Regions from separate parts of the Homo sapiens genome. Here region 2 is linked to region 1. Evidence: fine-mapped expression QTL. A gene starts in region 1. The other region holds a variant in brackets. All regions are shown on one strand. Distances are from middle to middle.

Region 1 (4,408 bases):
CCCTCAGTTGCATTTGCCATTGCAGATATTGGCTTTTTTTTAGCAAGGTTTCTGATAATGTCGAGTTTAAGAGAAGCATTGCAGTGCGAAGCCTTGAACAAGAATTTAGATTTTTCTTTAGATTTTCTAGCAGAGCAGAGGTGTCCCACAATGCATCAGTCAGAGTACTACCCCCAAAACTTCTGTGGACATCCTTTTATACTATGACATTTTCTTCTCTTTTGATGATATTTGAAAGATCTCTTATACCTCTTTGTTATAAAAGATTCACTTGCTATCCAAGTGTATAGATTTTATTAAGTTATTCAGAAAGTCTCTGTTAAAAACTTTCTAAATAATAATAACCAAGTCTCCTGATTCCCATACTTCCTAACATAGCTGGCATAATTGGCCATATTTATTGTCCAATAAATATATGGATCCTTCTGGACAGCAATCTAGGGTCTAGAAGTAATTACCTTGTGACCAGATAAATCAGGTTCAATGAGATTTTTCAAAAACACAGAGGACTATCCAAGTAGAACAAAACACAACTTTAATGTTCCAAAGCCCTCCAAATGTACATGTCTTTTGATCCAGCATTTATATTTCTGATAACTTAGCCCAAGAAAGTTATTAAGGACATGTAAAAGGATGCATGCACTTAGCTGTTCACTGTGCATTGGGAAGATAGTTAGAAGAGTTTTAGAAAATAGTTAGAATACTAAGGATTTATGTTTAAGATGCTGAGTATCACGCTATTGAAATTACAAGCATTATCTTGCTCATTTCTCGGAACAATCCTATGTGGTATTTACTATAATTACTCCTATTTATAGATAAAGAAATGGAAGGTAAAGAGACTCAGTAACTTAATCAAGGATGTTCAGCTAGTGAAGGTCAGCTCCAGGAATCAAAAGCAGGACTGATTTTTAAAACTTTGTTCTTGTCCACCACACTTTACTAGAAGATTTGTGGTTATGCAATTGTTAAAGAAATAATATACTTTTACACCTGAATAAATAAATCATATAGTTTTACACCTGAATGCTATGCACATATTAAATAATACATTATCAAAATCTATATTTTGACATGAAAAGATATATATAACATAGTGTTAGCTTAATCTTGAGCAGATAGATTGCAAAACAATATGTACAATATGTTCCCATTGTTCTTTGTGAACCAGTGTTTTTCTGTCTATCTATCTATCTATCCATCTATCTTTCTATCTACCTACTCATCTCGAAAGGATACACCCTGAGGTGCTAGCAATGACTATAACTAAATGTACAAGGTTATAAATGGTTTTGTTTTCTCAATTTTCCTTGTTAATATTTTCCAGCCATTTTTTTGTCATGAGCACAGTAGTTTTCATAGTAGGGAAAATAAAAGCAAATTTTCAAATTTAACACGAAATTAAAAACTCCTTGACAATAGGACTTGAGTATTGTTCACCCCAGCCCACTGCTGTATCCAGCAGAGTGCCATGTTCAAGAAACACTGAAGAGCCACCATGAGGTCTGGAAGGTGAGCAGGTGGTGCCAGAGAGGAGTCCATGATAAAGGGGAATGAGCAGAGCTCCAGCAAATGGAGCAAATGGAACAGCAAGAACCTGCTCATTCATATTAGTGTCTTCAACTGGATTTCTTAACATTTTTAACTTGACATAATTTCAGACTTGCAGAAATGTTGTAAGGAAAGTACAAATAACTTCCAGCTACCTTTTATCCAGATTCAATGTTTGTTAAAATTTTACTACATTTCTCTTCCCACTGTATTTCAAGGAGATTTAGACACAGAGGAAGGGTGAATCTGTGTTGAGGTATTTTGTTTTCCAAATTGTCCTTAAAATGTTCCTCTGCATTAGAACTCTCCTGGCAGGAAGTCTGCTCTTGCCACCACTAGGGCTAGAGAGTCTCTTCCCTTCTTTGCCCCGCCTGCTCCCTTTGCCAAGAACCCCACTGAACAGGAAGAGGTATTTCTTGGGGATGCTACCAAGGCAGAGACTGTGAAGAAGGAAGAACGTTGCTTGGGCAAAAGGAGCATATTCTCAGGAGACGGGGCCCCTGCCTGCCACACCAAGCATTAGGCCACCAGGAAGACCCCCATCTGCAAGCAAGCCTAGCCTTCCAGGGAGAAAGAGGTGAGTCTGTCTGTCTGTCTTGGCTGCATGGACTGTTGACCAATGCCAAGACCTTCAGGGATGCCTGTCCTGTCTGTCACCTACCCCTGGTATTTGGAAGACTGAGGCTTCTGACAACTTAAGTCAGTATGGTGAAGGCTACAGACTAAGGTCCTTGGGAACAAGGGTCATTTCAAGGATAAGGGTTCTCAAAATACAGGAGAGGGTTTAATTATTAGACAGAATTTAGGAGGCCACAAATAGGGCAAGGCTGAGGCCTGGAGTAGGGAATGAGTGAAGGAGAGGCAGTATGCCAAGTTCCAAGGCTCCAATCAATACATGATTCTTTCTGTGTTCGCGGCCCACGCTGGGTCACCTCCTGGTACCTGTCAATGTCATGCCTGTCTTCCAAGCCTGCCTTGCTTTGGGTACTCTGAGCGAGAGGCTGGGATATGTCCTAGTGAAAAGCAGCCTTGTACCCGAATTCTGATGCTGCTGTGCTCTAATCTTCACAGGCCCCTGCAGCTCCTTCATCATGAACTGGCACATGATCATCTCTGGGCTTATTGTGGTAGTGCTTAAAGTTGTTGGAATGACCTTATTTCTACTTTATTGTGAGTATTTGAGCAACCTCTTGCCCCAGACTTCATGTTGTCTTGCTCATTGACTCTTCTCTCAGAATGCATGGTTGTGTGTAAAGGTTACATATCCAAGTCTTTCCACCTGAGACTAACTGACCCAACCTGAGGTCAATTGGCAATGCCTTTCTCACTCCCCAGCACACACAGTGGCCCAGGCTCCTTGGTCTACCTTGGAGATATAGAACTTACCAGTTTCTGATGGTTAGAACGCCACGCAAAGCTTTTGCTAGTAGAGTATTATTTGGGTGATCTCAGCTGAAGTACTTGGCAGCGCTTGTTATTGTTGGCAAAATCTAAAATACAGCTCCAGTTCAACCCAATGACAAGGCCATGGTAAGAGCTGAAGTATAATGTAACAGGATTTAACTGAGAAAGAAATTTCTCTTTGTATACATATAAATTAATTCATCCAAATGCCTAGTTAAAGAAGCCTCCTATGAAAGGATTTTACTGCAATCAGAAACTAGAATCTTCTCTAGCCCCAGAAGCCAGTAGGGAAAATAAATGAGGAAGGAAACGTGAGTGGGAGGCAGTAGTTAGCTAAGAGGTGTCTTCCTCATGATGCAATCTGAAGGTGCAATTCCTATCATGTCAGACAGCAGGACAGAAATATGAATAAGGGAACGTATTCACAAAACCACATTTATGCATCTTCACTGAGTCAGAGAGTTCAGTATTTCCCACTAATAGTCACAGTACCCTAGCAGCCCCTGTGCTGATACTTGTTTGTCATATTCATCATGCAGTCACATTTGGGGCTGAGCCAACAGCTGATTTTCTTTTCAGTCCCACAGATTTTTAACAAAAGTAACGATGGTTTCACCACCACCAGGAGCTATGGAACAGGTAATCTGCATGGTGGTAAATCTTCTCCCCATCCTCCTGCTACTTCTATGCTGAATTCCTAGAGACCTTCCACACAGCCTCCTTTCCCAAGAAATTCTTTTGTACAAAGGGTCCATAAAGATCTTCTAATTAATTCCCTTTCTTTTACATATGAGAAAACCAAGAGCAGACTGAGGGAAATTTCTGATCCTTAGTTTTTCTCCTGGATATGGGGATGATTTATATCTAATCATTGTAATAGAATGTGAAAGTGCTTAATAGCCAGTAGCTATGGGAGATAGAGAGATGAGTGGGGCATGGTTCTCCTCTCCCGATTAAACCAGCTTCCTTCTGAAGCCTTTCCCAACAACATCCTCTCACTTCCTCTTAAGACACCTATTACTACTGACATCGTTAGGAGAAAGACCGTTTCTCATTTATCTTAGTATCAACAGAGGCAACCCAATACAGTGAGCTGTATGGAGAAAATACTCATAAAATATGTATTGAGTCCTTAAGTTATAATCTCAAAGTAGTTTCTGATGAAAACCAGGCTATTACATCTTAGAGTCTATAAACGGGGTACTGAAATAAAAAGTGAATGCCAATTTGTTTCATTAAGATAAATGTAAGTAACTAATTTGATGTCAGAGTAAAGTGGTCTTCAACCACAATGGACAAATAACTGGCAGCCCAATTAGATGTTTGACCAGCCTCTGAAGCCACTGCGGCTGCCTGCTCAGACAGCCAGTGTTCCCAGGGAAATGAGGCCCCTATATGGATTTCTAGAAATGAATGGACCCTTCCCTGCTTATAGAAAATCTCCCTAAAGTTC
Region 2 (4,408 bases), 74 kb after region 1:
CTGAGTATCCAAGGCAATCCTAAGAATAGGTAGGCCATAAAAGCCACAGGTCTTGATTAGGCCTCAGTGCTACAAATCTCAATGGCCATATGATTTGAGTGAGAGCCAAGGCTACATCAATGTCAGTGGCCATGGGATTCCTTCTGTGGCAGCCTGGCCTTAGAGCACCCCGTAGTGATACAATAGATGAAGCAATCACAAGCACAGGGACTTTACCAGCAAACTTGCCCCGAGTTTCTCAACCAGCTTACTGTTGAAGAACACTGCCAAACAAAGGCAGACTGTGAAGACTGCATTAAGTACCTATTTCATTGTACAAACATCGACACACAGCCACAAGGTTAAGAAAAATCAGAGAATCATGACATCACTAAGCAGGCAAAATAAGGTGCCATTGAACAAAATAAGGTGCCACTGACTGACCCTAAAGAGATGGAGATGGAAGAACAGCCTAACAAAGAATTTAAAGTTCCTATTTTAACGAAGCTCAGAGAATCTCAAGAAAATACAGAAAAATAATACAGAAATTAGTGAGAAACTTAACAGAGAAATGGAAATTAAAAAAGAAATCCTGGAGCTGAAATATACAATAAACTAAATTTAAAATCCCAATACAGAGCATCAACAGCAGAATTGATCAAACAGAAGAAATACGTGTGAACTCAAAGTATTTAACAATATACAGTAAGAGTAAAAAACAGAATGAAAATAAATTTTAAAGGCTTATGGGATAATATCAAAAGACCAAAAGTATGGGTCATCAGGATTCAAAAGAAGACAGAGAAAGCGAAAGGGGTATAAATAGTATTTAAGAAATAATAGCAGGAAACTTTCCAAACCTAGAGAAAGATGTAAATATCTAGGTGTAAGATATGAGGTATCAGATTCAATCCAAATGAGATACCCCATGACGTATTATAATCAGTAGCAGACCTAAGATAAAAAGAGGATTCTAAAAGTAGCATCATTAAAAGATGCTAGAAGCTCTGCTCCATCAAAACTTGGAAGCAAACCAAAAAAGAAGAAGATAGAAAAGTTGGTAAAACGAAAGCTATCACATGAAAACTGTGAATGGATGTCCCTGCACAAGAGCTCTATACCAGGCCTACAGAACACAAAGCCAGAGCTTTGTTAGGTTTAGGTTTGAGATGTATGTAGAACTATTTGGGGATGGGGGAAAGGAACTGCATTTAAAAATTAATAAGTAACTTATTAATTACAGAAAGAATAAATTTCATAAATTATGAAATATTTATATAAGCATATTATTACTAAATATGTACCAAAAAAAGTTTTTGACTCTGAAGAGTAGTACCATGAGTAAAATGGGAAAGAGAAACAATCTGCCATTTTCCTATATCAATCACTTACAATTACTTTAAATTTTTTAAACTATGCCTATATGATTATGATTTTAAATAATTTAAATATTTAAATTAAAAATATAAATATAGCAAAAACATTACAGTCAATGATGAAAGGACAATTAAAAACATTTTCCTGGCAAAAACTACCACAAATTCAACATTATTTTTACATAAACTTCTGTTTATATTCACTGCAATAGCACAAATACACACTTGAAAGATACATGTAATCGAAACATATTCTATGTTATGATTACTTACTGTTGCACCTACATATACTGTTTATGTAGGCCCATGTTGTGATCTCAAAAGTTGGTAACTTCTGCATACTTGTTAGCTAATATAAGATCATTTGACATGGTGCATAGAAGATTATGACCTAAACAGAAAATGAACAATGAAAAGTCTAGAAATAATTTTCTAAGGGAGGATAGTACAGAAGGTAGATTTACTATACGTGAGCTATGTAGATGCTTTCTTGTGTCCCTTTGGTTTCAGCTGTTTCCTTTTAGTTTGGAGTCCAAGGGTTATTAATAGAAAATTATATAAATATTTACATATAAAAATGAGTATGTGAGTATAAAAGTAACTGTTTAGGCAGTTTTTTTTTAATAGGGAGACTCCAAGTTTGGGTAGACTCCTCTGATGCAGAGTCTATAATAAGCTCAGAGTTGCTAACCACTGAAAGTGCACCTGAGCGGAAAAGATGACATCAGGCATGGTATTCAAAAATAATGTTAACTCTT[T/C]GGAATGAAGCTATAGGAACTAAAATGGATGACGATTCTAAAATAAGGATCTGATAAATGTACATGGCTTCTGAGGAGTTGTAAAGCCTGTTAGATACTTTTGTACACTGCTGTCGTGGCAATAGAAAGATATAAGATTTAAGCATAAAGTCACTGGCACACACTGATGGAAGACTTATGAGGAAGCCTGATGCCATGGAGAAGAGACAAATATACCTAAATTAAAAATAAGACTTGAGAACATGGATGGGAGACAGAAAAAATTAGGGATTGGCTTCCTACCACCAAAGGATTGCCATTCAACCATGCGGGTAAACATTTAGAATTACACATGAATTGAAAGAATCCTATTCCTTGAGGCTTTAAGACAATTTGATCTAAGGTTTCAATACATTCCTAATCAAAATGTCAGCAAGTTTTTTGTGGATATCTACAGACCGATTTCAATATTTATATGGAAAGTGGTTAGAGAATAGCCAAAGCAGTTCTGAAAAATAAAAGTAATTTCTTAAATTATTTCTTTATTCAATCATTCATTTACATTATATATTTATAAAATATTAATATTTTATACTATAAGTTATAATTCATTCTACATCATTTAATATGCTAAATTATTCTAGCTTTGGCCATTGGGAGCTGCTATAGACTGAATATTTGTGTTCCCCCCAAATTCTTGAAACACAATCTCCAAGATGATGGTATTCAGAGTTGGACTTTTGGAAGGTGATTAGGTCATGAAGAGGGAGCCCTTATAAATGTGATTAGTGACCCTATTAAAAATACCCCAGTGACCTCTCTTGCCCCTTATACCACCACCAGACACCACATATGCTAGTGCTTTAATCTTGAATTTCTCATCCTCAAGTGCTGTGAGAAGTAAATTTCTATTTTGTATCAGCCATGCAGTCTACGGTATTCCATTATAGCATCCCACAGGGACTAAGACTGAGACTCAGGTTGGGTCCTGTATCCCTTTGACATGCTCCATCCTTTTGTTTTGAAAAGCATTTTTTTATTGTGAAATTTTTTCTTTTTCTTTTATTATACTTTAAGTTCTAGGGTACATGTGCACAACGTGCAGGTTTGTTGCATAGGTATACATGTGCCATGTTGGTTTGCTGCACCCATCAACTCATCATTTACACACATTAGGTATTTCTCCTAATGCTATAACTCCCCCAGCCCCCCACCCTCCTACAGGCCCCAATGTGTGATGTTCCCTGCCCTGTGTCCATGTGTTCTCATTGTTCAATTCCCACCTATGAGTGAGAACATGCGGTCTTTGGTTTTCTGTCCTTGTGATAGTTTGCTTAGAATGATGGTTTCCCGCTTCATCTATGTCCCTGCAAAGGACATGAACTCATCCTCTTTATGGCTGCATAGTATTCCATGGTGTATATGTGCCACATTTTCTTAATCCAATCTATCATTGATGGACATTTGGATTGGTTCCGTCTTTGCTATTGCGAACAGTGCTGCAAGAAACATACGTGTGCGTGTGTCTTTATAGTAGAATGATTTATAATCCTTTGGGTATATACCCAGTAATGGGATCGCTGGGTCAAATGGTATTTCTAGTTCTAGATCCTTGAGGAATCACCACACTGTCTTCCACAATGGTTGAACTAATTTACACTCCCACCAACAGTGTAAAAGCGTTCCTATTTCTCCACATCCTCTCCAGCATCTGTTGTTTCCTGACTTATTAATGATCGCCATTCTAACTGGCATGAGATGGTATCTCATTGTGGGTTTGATTTGCATTTCTCTGATGACCAGTGATGATGAGCATTTTTTCATATGTCTGTTGGCTGCATAAATGTCTTCTTTTGAGACGTGTCTGTTCATATCCTTTGCCCACTTTTTGATGGGGTTGTTTTTTTCTTGTAAATTTGTTTGAATTCTTTGTAGATTCTGGATATTAGCCCTTTGTCGGATGGGTAGATTGCAAAGATTTTCTCCCATTCTGTAGGTTGCCTGTTTACTCTGATGATAGTTTTTTTTTTGCTGTGCAGAAGCTCTTTAATTTAATTAGATCCTATTTGTCTATTTTGGCTTTTGTTGCCATTGCTTTTGGTGTTTTAGTCATGAAGTCCTTGCCCATGCCTGTGTCCTGAATGGCATTGCCTGGGTTTTCTTCTAGGGTTTTTATGCTATTAGGTCTTACACTTAAGTATTTAATCCATCTTGAGTTAATTTTTTTATATGGTGTAAGGAAGAGATCTAGTTTCAGCTTTCCACATATGGCTAGACAGTTTTCCCAGAACCATTTATTAAATAGGGAATCCTTTC

What was found. PIP is the estimated chance that this variant, and not a neighbour inherited with it, causes the effect.
Region 2: its variant is the best candidate, but not a certain one, in a credible set for the expression of CLEC5A in whole blood (TOPMed, PIP 0.55).

What each region holds. Positions count from the first base shown.
Region 1 is chr7:141,944,527-141,948,934 of GRCh38, reverse strand. CLEC5A (C-type lectin domain containing 5A) reads left to right here and starts at 1,961. Exons shown (of 7, transcript NM_013252.3): 1 at 1,961-2,128; 2 at 2,623-2,721; 3 at 3,535-3,594. The coding sequence starts at 2,643. RefSeq lists an enhancer at 2,280-3,479.
Region 2 is chr7:141,870,764-141,875,171 of GRCh38, reverse strand. No RefSeq gene overlaps it. Among named protein-coding and RNA genes, the nearest start is that of PRSS37, 31 kb to the right of the region's middle. The variant T/C (reference allele first, on the strand shown) is at 2,114.